Linked DNA regions of Homo sapiens: region 1 is linked to region 2. The links come from fine-mapping of genetic effects on gene expression. Tissue or cell type: blood mononuclear cells. Region 2 holds a variant in brackets; the other region holds the start of a gene. All regions are shown on one strand. Distances are between the middles of the regions.

Region 1 (7,159 bases), 31 kb before region 2:
AATAGTCTGTCAACTTGGTAGCTATATCTCAGCTGAACCGTGTACCTGGTAGCAGACTAATAATACACTTCCAGCATGAGCACGCCCTTTGATCCAACTCTTCCACTTATGGGAACCTAGCCAAAGGAAAAAACAGCACATGTGCTGATACTAGCAAATCATTAGAGACAATCTCAAGGTCCAAAAATGGAGGCTTGACTTCAGAATCTTATGCAATCCATGAAAGTTGTACTGCAGAAATGTGTCAGCTAACAAGGAAAAAGATGGTCACAATATACAGTGAAATAAGCAAGTTAAATAATTGTATGGTATAGCTGGGCACGGTGGCTCATGCCTGTAATCCCAGCACTTTGGGACGCCCAGGCGGGTGGATCACTTGAGGTCAGGAGTTCGAGACCAGCTTGACCAACATGGTGAAACCCTGTCTCTACTAAAAATACAAAATTAGCCGGGTGTGGTGGCGTATGCCTGTAATCTGAGCTACTTGGGAGGCTGAGGCAGGAGAATCACTTGAACCTGGGAGGCAGAGGTTGCAGTGAGCCGAGATTGTGCCACTGCACTCCAGCCTGGGCAAAAAGAGTTAAACGCCATCTCAAAAAGAAAAAAGAAAGAAAGAAAAAAAAGAAAATTGTATGGTATGAGCAAACTCTATTTAAAAAATTACAATTATATCCACAGACTTGGAAGAACTTGCAATAAATGCTTAACTTTGGCTGTCTCTGGGTAGATGAAATTTTTGGTGTTTTGTTCTAATTGCTAATCTCTATTTTCTGACTCTTCTGTAATTACATGCATTGCCAAGCAATGAAAAAATAATACTAAAAGTAGTTAAGATAGCATGATACTTAATAAAGAAATCCAATTATGGCACTTCCTCATACTATATTATAATTTAAGCATGGGGTTGCAGCATACCTAAGTGTCTGATTCTTCTTATGTATCTACTTACAAGATGCAGCCTGCATTGTGGTCAAAACTTCACGTTCTGGTCTTGGGGGAGCTGGGTTACATCTCGGCTCTGCCACTAAGCTGAGTGACTTTAGCCAGCCTTCGCAGCCTCTAGATCTGTCTTCATCTGAGTAATGGGGATGGTAGTGATCATACTAAGCTTATGGCTTGGTTGCTGGTTACATAACACGTGGAAATACAGAATAAACTGCTTGGCATGGTGCCTAACAGTACTGTGTTCAATACATGGGGACCGTTACTACTCAATCAGATGTCCTAGGCTTTCTTCAGGGGCCAGCAGATGATGTGAACGCGAACAGGAACCCCTGCCGAAGCCCAAAGGACTCCTCCAGGCATTGACAGCTATGCTGTGCATCTTGCCTGGATGTTTTTTCAGAGGAGGGTGCAGGCAAGAGCAAAAGCAGCAGTCCCAGGCTATTCAACTTCCACAAAGCCTCCTTATCTCCGGTTGGGAAGTACAGTTGCTGATTAACTGTGTTAACACAGCACAGTGCTCAGAAGGCCAAAGGTCAAAGACTAAGGTCTGAAGCCCCACAAGGAGGAAATATCCCTCCTCGTCATTACTGGGGGGAAAAAAATTACCCTTGTAAGCCACTTAGAAGGGAGCACCTTTATTTGGAAAACAGTAATTTCAAAATCATCTCCCGAACTCAGAATCGATGGGTCTGGGTAGATACCCTAAGTAAACAGGTGAAATCTTCATTACTTGTTCACTTATTAAGTAAAATTTTAAATTAACCGATTATGTACAGGAGTGTTTTTCACATTTCCTGATAAGAATCACTTGGAATGCCCTGTAAACACAGCTTCACTGGAGATTAATCCTATCAAATTGATTCAGCAAGTCCGAGATGGGCCAGTAATTTGTGGAGATTTTTATTTTTACAAATGCTTCCTGATGATGACCAAATCTAAGAAAATTTGGTAAACAACGGAAAGTTATCTGGAACATAACTTTCAGTTTTCTCTGCAGTTTTTAAGTGCTGAACTACTGATCATCCTAGAGATAACCCACTGAAAAGTCTTCTCTAATCCAGTTTTACAAAAGGAAAGTCTTTTTAACATTTGGTTTGATAAAATGTTTTCCGAAGAAATACTTTACTTGCCTGTTTTCATTTCTGGCCCACCCGTTCTACTTCACGTTTTCTTGAAGGGTTCATCTTCTATGAGTTGAGGCATAGCAATCTAATCATTTTTAAAATAAATGGTTTCTTTTTTTTTTTTTTTTTTTGAGACGGAGTCTCGCTGTTGCCCAGGAGTACAGTGGCGCAATCTCAGCTCACTGTAAGCTCCGCCTCCCGGGTTCAATTGATTCTCCTGCCTCAGCCTCCAGAGTAGCTGGGACTACAGGCGCCCGCCACCACGCCCGGCTAATTTTTTGTATTTTTAGTAGAGACGGGGTTTCACCCTGTTAGCCAAGATGGTCTGGATCTCCTGACGTCGTGAGCCGCCCGCCTCGGCCTCCCAAAGTGCTGCGATTACAGGCGTGAGCCACCGCGTCCGGCCAATAAATGGTTTCTAATTAAAGGATTGTGACATTTAATAGCCGTTGCTTGCTCTTGTCTTGCTCCCTTCTCTCTCGAAACTTGTTAAGAAATAACTCAATATTCTGGCTTTTCCACTTTAAATGTCATACTGACCAGCCCGTGTATGCCAGCCTCGATCTCATCGTTTTCTTTAACCGGTCCAACTCCCTTTGGCGTCCCAGTCAAGATAATATCTCCTTCTTCCAAGGTTATGATCTTAGAAACATAGCTGATGATGTAGGGGATGGAAAAAATCATGGAGGATGTCTCACCCTCCTGTCTGAGTTCGCCGTTGACCTTGAGCCAGAGCTTCAGCTTGTGAGGGTCAGGGATCTTCTCCTTGGGCACGAACGCGCTGACCGGGCAGGACGCCGTGAAGCTCTTCGCCAGAGTCCAGGGCAGCCCCTTCTTCTTGCACTCGTCCTGCACGTCCCGGGCGGTCATATCCAGGCACAGGGCATAGCCGCCCACGTAGTCCATGGCCGCAGCCTCGGGGACTGCGCGGCAGCGCTTGCCCATCACCACGCCCAGCTCCAGCTCGTGGTGCAGGTTGCGAGTGTACGCGGGCATGAGGATGGGCGAGCCCTCGGGCGCGTAGGCCGTGGACGGCTTCAGGAACAGCACGGGCTCGCTCAACACCGCGCTGCGCATCTCCCTGACGTGGTCCGCGTAGTTCCTCCCCACGCAGACGATGTTCTTTCCCCACTCCCAGAAGCGGGACAATGGCCTGGATGCTGCCATGATTCCCATCAAGTGCCCCTGTAGTCACGTGGGCTGGGCCGGTCAGCTGATGCCTACGGCATCCCGGAGAGGACCAACTGCCTCGGAACGCTGTCCCCCGCAGCGACGGCCCGTTCCACCTCGCGATCTGCCGGGTACCCGGGCGGCGTGGCGCTCGGCCTCCAGGGATCCACTGTGCGGTGCCAAAAAAGAGGCGGAGGCTCGCGGCACAGCTCTCCCGGCGCAGCTCTCGGGCCGCCGCCGCCGCTCCCAGGCCCGTCTCCCGGCCCGTGGCAGTCGGGGCTCGCGGACAAAACAAGTTGAGCGCGAGCGCGTTGATTGGTTGGCGGACGGTGCGAGGTGGACGCTGATTGGCTGAGGGCAGCGCGAGGCGGGCGCTGATTGGCTGCGACGCGCCGACGCCGGTGTTTTGCAGTCCTGGGCAGCTCGGCAGTCCAGCCCGGCCCGGGTCATGGTGGTGGGCCGAGGGCTGCTCGGCCGCCGCAGCCTCGCCGCGCTGGGAGCCGCCTGCGCCCGCCGAGGCCTCGGTGGGTGCGGCGGGGCGGTGCGGGCCGGGGGACGCGGGCCTGGCGGGGCGGGCAGCGGGCGGCGCCGGGCCGTCGTTTGGCGACCGCTGACGCGGTGTCTGTTGCGCAGGTGCCTAAGGCCGCGCTGCCGGGCTCGAGCGGAGGCGGCGCAGGCGCTGAGGCTGGCGCGGAGCGGGCGCGGGGCCGCGGGTGCGGAAAGCGCTAGGTAAGCAGGGCCAGGCCTGCGTCCGCCGCGGCCTCCACGCTCGGGCTGGGCCGGCCGCGCCCCTGACGCCTCCAGGGCATCGCGTCCTGCCCGGGCCGGCGCCGAGGAGAGCCTGGGGCGCGGCTCTGAGGCGCAGCGGGCAGGGCCCCGGGACGCCTGGCCCACCCCGCACCTGCTGCCCCGCTGCAAGGACCGCGGTCTCGCGGCGCCGCCTGCGGTGGTGGAGCTGCCCGCCCGGCGCCGGAGCCCCCGTCTGGGGACCCGGCGTGTCATTCGCCCGAGGTGGTCGCGCGGCCGGGCCAGGCCAGCGCCCCGGGCGGGTGCGCAGCGCAGGGCACTGGGCGGGCGGAGGCGCAGACAGGGAGGCGTCCCTGGCGGTTTCCAGATCTCGCCGAAAGCTGTCAAGGCTCTGCAGGGGGTAGAATGTCGCCATTGCTAAGGAAAGGACATGGATTTTGAGGTCCTCAGAATTACAGTTTTAGGGACATTCATAAGGGTCCAGGCAGAGAGTTCCAGCGGGACTGTGTGCATCGGCAGGGCGTGCGTACCCCATTCTAAGGGAGGCCCCAGCCCCCGTATTTGGTGCCGCCCAGTTCAAGGGAAGCAAGATGCTGTGAAACTTCCTGATTTAAAAAAGAAGTGCAGTGACGCACGCCTGTCATCCCAGCACTTTGGGAGGCCGAGGCGGGAGGATCGCTTGAGTCCAGGAGTTCCAGACCAGCCTGGCAACATGTTGAGACCTCATCGCTACAAAAACTAAACAAAATCAGCCGGGCGTGGTGGCACACAACTGTAGTCTCAGTCACTTTGGAGGCTGAGGTGGGAGGATCGCTTGAGTCCAGGAGGTCGAGGCTGCAGTGACCCTTGATCGCACCACTGCACTGTAGCCTAGGGGACAGAGTGAGACCATATCTCAATTTTTTTTTGTTTTTGGGGCCAAACCGAACATGTTTCTGGACTTGGTCCAGGCCCCAGGCTGCAGGTCCTTGACCTGTTTGTACAAAGTATTACAGTTACAAAACAGCAAGCCGGGAACATTTGCCAGGCAGTGCTGGGCTGAGTGATATGGAAAGGGAATACGGTTTCTGCTGGTGTTGGCACCAGCTGCGTCTTTCCTCAGAAATAAAGGCACCTCCCTGGGTTGTCAGCTTCTTCAGGAGGCTGTGATGGTCTCCAGGGGAGGCTGAGCACCAGTTGTAAATGACATTTTCTTCGCCTGGGCAGTGCAGTGGCCAATCTCGGCTCACTGCAACCTCTGCCTCCCGGGCTCAAGCGAGTCTCCTGCCTCAGCCTCCTGAGTAGCTGGGACTACAGGCGCTCGCCACCACGCCCAGCTAATTTTTGTATTTTTTAGTAGAGACAGGGTTTCACCATATTGGTCAGGCTGGTCTCGAACTCCTGACCCCGCGATCCGCCCGCCTCGGCCTCCCAAAGTGCTGGGATGACAGGCGTGAGCCACCGCACGTGGGCAGTATTTTTGTTTGTAATGTTCTGCTCCTTGTTTGTAATGGAGCTCCTTTCCAGGAGGACGCCCGGCACTCGGAATCCTGTCACAACCCTTCTGCACCCCACCTGCAGCCCCCAGCACCCACACTCTGCTTGTTGTGCTCCTTGGGCTGGGGTGGTGCTGAGGCTAAGGGGAAGGGGAATAACACAGGAAGCTGCTCATATAGAAATCTTGGTATTATTGTTCCTGAGGAGAATGATCTGGAAAATGCCCAGCTGGTTGTCAGGCGGGTAATAGGATATCTTTGTGCAGTGATTGAAACTATAGTTTGGGCAGTTTCCCCGGCTGTGGAAATAAGGTCGGATTCCGCATTTCGGTGGGCCCTGGAGACGCGTGTGTCTGTCAGTTGGTGGCTGCTGCCCATTTCTGGATCCCTTTTGGGAGAAGCCCCTGCCGTGGCACCTACCCCAGGACTGCACTGTCCTCTGCCACCTTCTGTGGTTTCTTCCCCGTGTAGAGCGGAACTGAAGGTATTGTCGGGGCCCCCAGGTATTTTTAGATTTAGTAGGAGTTTCATTGCTGAAAATATTTTTGCATTGGTCGACTGGGTGGCAGACACTTTTGTCCCTTGGTCACCCACTCCTCCCAGCTCTTGGGCCTTCTGGGCCCCTGTGGCAGAGTCCTTTGGGTCAGTTGGATGGTGGTTTTGTGTCCTCCACACTTGAATCTGGGGGCAGTTGTGGCCAACTTTCCGTCTCAAAGGAACTGCTGATTTTTGTGCATATCTCAGATTCGTGCTGTTCAAGAGCAAGTATTGTTTGTTTGTTTTTTTTTTTTTTTGAGACTGTCTCACTCTGTTGCCCAGGCTGGAGTGCAGTAGGGCGATCTTGGCTCACTGAAACTTTCACCTCCCGGATTCAAGCAATTCTCCTGCCTCAGCCTGCCGTCAAGTATTGGTTCTTTCTGGCTAGAGGCTGAGAAGGGCTGTAACTGCATGGAACGCAGGCTCGCTTAGTCAGTGGTGGCAGCACAGCTTGCTGGAGGGCAGATGGCCAGGCGGGGGCACCCCTAGTCTGTGTTCCCTTCTTCACATTCTGTCCCTGAGTCCGGGGTGTGAATAATCCAGCACTGGCAGTGGTTCGCCTCACAATCACAAGCTGGCCTTCCTGTCCTTTTAGAGTTCTCAAAAAAGAAAATAGAGATCGTAAGTCTGAAACAATTGATTTCCATGAATGTGAGCATGAGTTAGTTCCTGTGTTCTCCTCAGGGATATATGAAGATATTCCTTTTTTTTTTTTTTTTTTTTTTTTTTTTTAAGGAACAGGTTATTGTCTTGTCACCCAGGCTGGAGTGCAGTGGCACAGTCATAGCTCACTGCAGCCTCAAACTCCTGGGCTCAAGTGATCCTCCTGCCTCAGCCTCCGGAGTAGCTGGGACCACAGGCATGCACCACCATGCCTGGCTAATTTTTAAATTTGCAAAGACAAGGTCTTGGCTGGTCGCGGTGGCTCACACCTGTCATCCCAGCACTTTGGGAGGCCGAGGTGGGCGGATCACAAGGTCAGGAGATCGAGACCATCCTGGCTAACACCATGAAACCCGTCTCTACTAAAAAATACAAAAAATTAGCCGGGTATGGTGGCGGGCGTCTGTAGTCCCAGCTACTCAGGAGGCTGAGACAGGAGAACGGCGTGAACCTGGGAGGCGGAGCTTGCAGTGAGCCGAGATCGCGCCACTGCACTCC
Region 2 (7,081 bases):
AACCCAAAAGTCCAAGTCCAGAGTCTCATCTGAGACAAAGCAAGTCCCTTCTGCCTATAAGCCTGTAAAATCAAAAGCCAAGTGAGTTACTTCCTAGATACAGTGGGGGTACAGGCATTGGGTAAATACACCTATTCCAAATGGGAGAAATTGGCCAAAACAAAGGGGCTACAGGCCCCAGGCAAATCTGAAATCCAACAGGGCAGTCAAATCTTAAAGCTCCAAAATGATCTCCTTTGACTCCATGTCTCACATCCAGATCACACTGATGCAAGAGCTGGGTTCCCAAGGCCTTGGGCAGCTCCACCCCTGTGGCTATGCAGGGTACAGCCCCCCTCCCAGCTGCTTTCACAGGCTTGTGACAAGTGTCTGTGGCTTTTCCAGGTCCATGGTGCAAGCTGTTGTCGGTGGATCTACCATTCTGGGGTCTGGAGGATGGTGGCCCTTTTCTCACAGCTCCACTAGGCAGTGCCCTAGTAGGGACCCTGTGGAGGGATCCAACCCCACATTTCCCTTCCGTATTGCCCTAGCAGAGGTTCTCTGTGAAGACTCTACCCCTGCAGCACACTTCTGCCTGGACATCCAGTAGTTCCTATACATCCTCTGAAATCCAGGCAGAGGTTCCTAAACCTGAATTTTTAATTTATTAATTTATTTATGTTTGAGATGGCGTCTTGCTCTGTCACCCAGGCTGGAGTGCAGTGGCATGATCTTGGCTCACTGCAACTTCTGCCTCCCAGGTTCAAGTGATTCTCCCACCTCAGCCTCCCAGGTAGCTGGGACTAGAGGCGTGCACCACCATGCTTGGCTAATTTTTGTATTTTTAGTAGGGACACGGTTTCACCATGTTGGCCAGGCTGGTCTCAAACTCCTGACCTCAGGTGATCCACTTGCCTCGGCCTCCCAAAGTGTTGGGATTACAGGCGTGAGCCATTGCACCTAGCTCCCAAACCTCAATTCTTGACTTCTGGGCATCTGCAGGCCCAATACCACATGGAAACTGCCAAGGCTTGGGGCTTGCACCCTCTGAAGCAACAGTCTGAGCTGTACCTTGGCTCCTTTAGCCATGGCTGGGAGGCAGGGCACCCGAGACTACACAAAGCAGCAAGGCCCTGGGTCTGGTCCACTAAACCATTTTTTCCTCCTAGGCCTCGGGGCCTGTGATGGGAGGGGCTGCCCTGAAGACGTCTGACATGCCCTGGAGACATTTTCCCCACTGTCTTGGTGATTAACATTTGGCTCCTTGTTATGCAAATTTCTGCAGCCAGCTTAAATTTCTCCTCAGAAAATGGGCTTTTCTGTTTTATGGCATCATCACGCTGCAAATTTTTCAGTCTTTTATGGTTGGCTTCCCTTTTAAACATAAGTTCCAATTCCAAACCATATCTTTGTGAATACATAAAACTGAATGCTTTTAACAGCATCCAGGTCACATTTTGAACAGTTTGCTGCTTAGAAATTTCTTTCACTGGCTGGGCGCAGTGGCTCATGCCTGTAATCCCAGCACTTTGGGAGGCCAAGGCGGGCAGATCACAAGGTCAGGAGATCAAGACGCTCCTGGCCAACATGGTGAGACCCTGTCTCTACTAAAAATACAAAAATTAGCTGGGTGTGACAGCGTGCTTCTGTAGTTCCAGCTACTCAGGAAGCTGAGACAGGAGAATCGCTTGAACATGGGAGGCAGTGGTTGCAGTGAGCCGAGATTGCGCCACTGCACTCCAGCCTGGGTGACAAAGTGAGACTCCATCTCAGAAAAAAAAAAAAAAATTTATTTCACTAGATGCCCTAAATCATCTCTCACAAGTTCAAAGTTCCACAAATCTCTAGAGCAGGGGCAACATGCCACCAGTCTCTGCTAAAACATAGCAAGAGTCACCTTTATTCCAGTTTCCTACAAGTTCCTCTTCTCCGAGACCACCTCAGCCTGGACTTTGTTGGCCATATCACTATCAGGATTTTGGTCAAAGGCATTCAGCAAGTCTAGGAAGCGCCAGACTTTCCCACATCTTCCTGTCCTTTTCTGAGCCCTCCAAACGGTTCCAACCTCTGCCTGCTACCCAGTTCCAAAGTCACTTCCACATTTTTGGGTATCTTTACAGCAGTGTCCCACTGTAATAATAATTATTACAGTAATAATTTACTGTATTAGTCTTTTCTCATGCTGCTGATAAAGACATACCTGAGACTGGGTAATTTATAAAGGAAAGAGGTTTAATGGACTCACAGTTCCACATGGCTGGGGAGGCCTCACAATCATGGCGGAAGGCAGAGGGTCTTACACGGCGGCAGGCAAGAGAGCGTCTGCAGGGGAACTCCCATTTATAAAACCATCAGGTCTCAGCCAGGCGCAGTGGCTCACGCCTGTAATCCCAGCACTTTGGGAGGCTGAGGCGGGTGGATCACGAGGTCAGGAGATCGAGACCATCGTGGTTAACACGGTGAAACCCCATCTCTACTGAAAATACAAAAAATTAGCCGGGCGTAGTGGTGGGCACCTGTAGTCCCAGCTATTTGGGAGGCTGAGGCAGGAGAATGGCATGAACCTGGAAGGTGGAGCTTGCCGTGAGCCGAGATTGTGCCACTGCACTCCAGCCTGGGAGACAGAGCAAGACTCCATCTCAAACAAACACACAAAAAACAAAAACAACCATCAGGTCTCATGAGAGTTACTACCACAACAGTATGGGGAAAACTGCCCCCTGATTGAGTTGTTTCCACCTGTCCCTGCCCTTGACACATGGGAATTATTACAGTTCAAGGTGAGATTTGGGTGGGGATGTGAGGCCAAACCAAATCATCTTTGTTGTTGGTATCTGAGGAATCAACCTCAACATTTAAGGGATATCATCTCAATTAAAATTAAGAACTCTCGCCGGCCCGGTGGCTCACGCTTGTAATCCCAGAGCTTTGGGAGGCCAAGGCAGGCAAATCACCTGAGGTCAGGAGTTTGAGACCAGCCTGACTAACATGGAGAAACCCTGTCTCTACTAAAAATACAAAATTAGGGGCTGGGCACGGTGGCTCACACCTGTAATCCCAGCACTTTGGGAGGCCGAGGCCGGCAAATCACCCGAGGTCGGGAGTTTGAGACCAGCTTGGCCAACATGGTGAAACCCTGTCTCTACTAAAAATACAAAACATTAGCCAGGCGTGGTGGCTCATGCCTGTAATCCCAGCTACTTGGGAGGCTGAGGCAGAAGACTCGCTTGAACATGGGAGGTGGAGGTTGCAGTGAGCGGAGATCACACCACTGGACTCCAGCCCTGGTAACAGACTGAGACTCCATCTCAAAAAATAAATAAATAAAATAAAATAAAAATTAGCCAGGTGTGGTGGTTCATGCCTATAATCCCAGCTACTTGGGAGGCTGAGGCAGGAGAACTGCTTGAACCCAGGAGGCAGAGGTTGCAGTGAGCTGAGATCGCACCATTACACTCCAGCCTGGGCAACGAGCAAAACTCCATCTCAAAAAAAAAAAAAAAAAAAAAACTCACCAGAATCCTAACGAGAGGACAGAAAGGCCACACACCTGAGTGTGCGTGCTGAATGCTTTTGTTTTTTCTTGTATCTTGCAAATCAGAAATCAGCCAGCTAACTAGAAAATCGGCAAGAGACCGAAACCAGCAGTGGCTGAGGCCAGATGACCCTGTGGCTGTGTGCTGGACAAGATGCTCGGTCTCCCAGGTGATGGCCACCGTCCACTCGCCACTGGCCTGAGTGTAGACAGGTATGCACCCACAGGATGCAGAGCCACAGGGCTCGGTGGCATTGCTGGAAACAGTGAGAAGGACAGGGACAGATGTATTCCAGGACGTGACCTAGACATGGCCTCACCTCCCTCGGGTCCTGTCCTACAGAAAGCCAGGCCCTGTGCGGCCTGAAGACAGGCAGAATGCGGCTCATGGAGGAGCCTGGGAGGCCACCGGCCTTGAGCTGGGAGAGGCCACGGGGAGTGGGGCCATTGGGGGTGGCGGCAGTGATGGGGGCCTCTGGAACTCAATGGGCTGAATGTGTGTGTAGGCCTCTGCGTTACCACAGGAATCAAAGAGGCCTGGAGCCCCCTTACGCGGCTGCCGCAACCCTGGTGAGGCTCTGCCCGCCCGCGACACCCGGCCCCTCCCAAAGGAAGAGAACAGGGACAGATTCTCCCTTCCCACCTGGAATGTGTGGGGCTCCCAGGTGGGGTGCGCGGCCTGACGGAGGCCGGGGCCCCCACGGGGACCTCTCCTGAGAGGAGGCCGCCCGGGTCTGCTGGCCTCAGGCCCCAGGCCCCTGCTGAGTCTGCGTTTTCTGCTGAGTAAACGGATCGTGGGTCTTTCTGGGTGTGGACTTTCTCCCCGTGGATCTATAATTTCTCAGAAGAGGAGCCGAGACGCCACCTGGAAAATGATCAATTCTCGATAAAGGGAAGACGATGACAGTGGGCCGGCGGCTTCCCACAGCTCTGCACGGGGCCTGCCAGGTGAGGCCGGAGCTGAGGATGGGGTAGGGCCCTGGAAAACTGTGGTCTCCCCGAGCCCTGGCTGTGCCCCCGCCTGCACCCCTTCCGGCTGCTTCCCTGCACACTTTCCCACTGCCGAGGGACTGGTGGGCAGGCCCCACTGACAGCCAGGGGAGGGGCCTGCAGGGACCTGGAGGGGAGGGGCTGCACCTGCTCAGGCCCTGGGGGAGAGAGCGACTGGTTGGGAAGTGGTTTGAGCAGGTGGAGGGGAACCAGGGGCCTCTGGAGGCAGGTGGAGACGGAGCCCAGGGGTGGCCTT[G/A]GACATGGCTGGGCACACATTCCTGTGGCCTCTCTGCACACAAGCGGTGACTGTGGGGCGGCCAGGCCCTCACCAGAGCCTTGGGGGACAGCAAGGGGCAGGTGAGGCTTGTCTGAGGCACAAGACCTGGCTCCCATGGCCAGGCCACCCCCACACACTCCCCGAGGATGGCGCAGGGCAAAAGCAAACAGGCGCCTGCAGCCCTGCCAGGCATTCCTAGAAGAGGCTGGGGGCGGGGCAGTGGCCAGACACCAGCGCCCCTGGGGTCACGGGAGAGGCAGGGTGAGCTTGGGCCCTGGACAGCACCGTGGGCCTGAAGCCCAAACGGCAGCTCCCACCCAGGCTGTAGGGAACCCCCGGGAGGGCGGGTGGATGGCTGGGTGGGGCACGGGGAAGGGGCGGCAGCCCCTTAGCCCCACACGGCTGGCTACTCAGGCCAGGGGTGGGCTCAAGACCCCAGGAGCTGCCCGAGGAGCCCCCTGCCCGCAACAGGACCTGGTAAAACCCTGGGCTCCCCAAACCGGCCTCAAGCCCCAGCCCCTCCCAGGCTGCTGCAAGGGGTCCCCACCCCAACCTGGCTGCCCAGCCCTCCCCAGTCAGCCCTGCAGGGGGCCCGGGCACTGGCCGTCAGCCCCCAGGGCCGCATTACGGCTACCTCGGGCCCCGACTGAAGCTCCCTCACCCCCTGCACTGTCTGCACCCCAGGGCTCCGGGCTGATGCCGGCCGCCCGGCACGAGGGGGTTAACAGAGCCAGGGCCAGCTGGGTTGGGCCAGCCAGGTGACAGGCGCGGGCTGCCCCGCAGTGGGGAAATCCAGAGGGCAGGGGTGGCCGGCACAGCAGACGTACCCTCCCTCGCTGCCTGCCTGCAGCCTGCCCTGCATGCAGGATGGCCCTGAGGAAAGGTGAGGCCCCCGAGTGCCCCGCCACCCACTCTAGGGGTGGCCAGTCTGTGACCCTGAGCCCGCTGGGGAGAGGCCGGGGTAGCCCCCAAGGAAGCTCTGGGGGGCTCAGCTCTGGGGGTCTGCGGGGGACTCTGGGGAGCCCACAGTCGGAAATGCGGCTGCTGGGGTTGGCAGGGGGACACAGCTGTGCCTGGCACCAGGGGTCTCTGTCCCGTCCTCCACCCTAAGGGCGCTGGCGGCGGCACAGGGGAGGAGGGCCAGGTGCAGGCCGGACCCTTCAGCTCCCAGCACAGCGGCGGGAAGTGCCCCGCACGGCCCGCGTTGTGGGCCCGGCCCAGGCAGGAGACGTTGGCTCACACCCCATTGTCTCTGTGGGGTGACCCCTTGCAGCTTCGGCCACCCCCAAGCCTGAGCTGAGCTCCAGAGCTGGCTCAGGCCACTCCCAACCCATCGTGACAGAAGGGCAGTCGGGGGGGCCCCACCTCGCCCCTGCCACCATCCCAGCAATTCCACACTCTCTGAGGATGGGGGGGCCATACAGTAGAGGTTTTGGGTCATCGCTGCTTGGGAGCCTGCTGGCTGGGTCTGTGGGGCCTGTGGCCCCTTGTCCTGAAAGGCAATGTGAGCTTTGGTGGCCGACGGTCCAGGGTTCCTACCTGTCCCCCGACGGCGGTGCCCCGGTCCCCTCCCGCAGCACCCGACCAAGGCCTGGATGCAGGCAGGTGAGACCCCGCTGGGGGGCCTAACTGGGGCAGGAGGTGCCCAGCTCCCTGTCCAGCCTCTGAGGGCAGTGAGCGAGTGCCCACCAAGACCTGCTGCAGAATATTCTGAAAATGGCCGGACCTTGGCCAATGGCTCAGTTCCCTCCCCTTCCTCTAGGCCAACGTGGCAGACTGGCCTGGCTCAAGCGCCTGCCTTGGGGGTGCGGCTGCCACATGGCCAGACAGCCCGAGACCCAGCCTGGCCGAGCCCACGTGGCCTGCGCACAGCTGGAGAGCCAAGCCCTGAGCGTCTGTGCAGCGGGGCGGGGCGGCCACTCCTCTGTCCCATGGGGTGGGAAGCGCAGTGTCAGCTTTTGAGCCGGAGGACCTGTGGGGCTCACCGGCTTCTTCGCATCTCAGCGGGTGACCTCGAGCCTCAGTTCACACCTGAGCGCCGCTTCCGGCTGTGCTGGTATCAGGCTCACTCGGGCAGAGCCCTCCTCGGGCCGCCTCCCCAAGCCTCTCCCCCCGCAGGAGGCCTGGCCCTGGCGCTGCTGCTGCTGTCCTGGGTGGCACTGGGCCCCCGCAGCCTGGAGGGAGCAGACCCCGGAACGCCGGGGGAAGCCGAGGGCCCAGCGTGCCCGGCCGCCTGTGTCTGCAGCTACGATGACGACGCGGATGAGCTCAGCGTCTTCTGCAGCTCCAGGAACCTCACG

What was found. PIP is the estimated chance that this variant, and not a neighbour inherited with it, causes the effect.
Region 1: it holds the start of HAGH, and the variant in region 2 is fine-mapped to the expression of HAGH in blood mononuclear cells (TOPMed, PIP 0.98).

What each region holds. Positions count from the first base shown.
Region 1 is chr16:1,823,316-1,830,474 of GRCh38, reverse strand. It overlaps HAGH (hydroxyacylglutathione hydrolase), which reads left to right and starts at 3,650. Exons shown (of 9, transcript NM_005326.6): 1 at 3,650-3,763. The coding sequence starts at 3,688. It overlaps FAHD1 (fumarylacetoacetate hydrolase domain containing 1), which reads right to left and starts at 3,269. Exons shown (of 1, transcript NM_031208.4): 1 at 1,565-3,269. The coding sequence starts at 3,236. The coding sequence ends at 2,571. RefSeq lists enhancers at 3,050-3,239, 6,504-6,573 and a silencer at 3,330-4,299.
Region 2 is chr16:1,792,220-1,799,300 of GRCh38, reverse strand. It overlaps IGFALS (insulin like growth factor binding protein acid labile subunit), which reads left to right and starts at 5,596. Exons shown (of 2, transcript NM_004970.3): 1 at 5,596-5,664; 2 at 6,900-7,081. The coding sequence starts at 5,649. The variant G/A (reference allele first, on the strand shown) is at 4,761.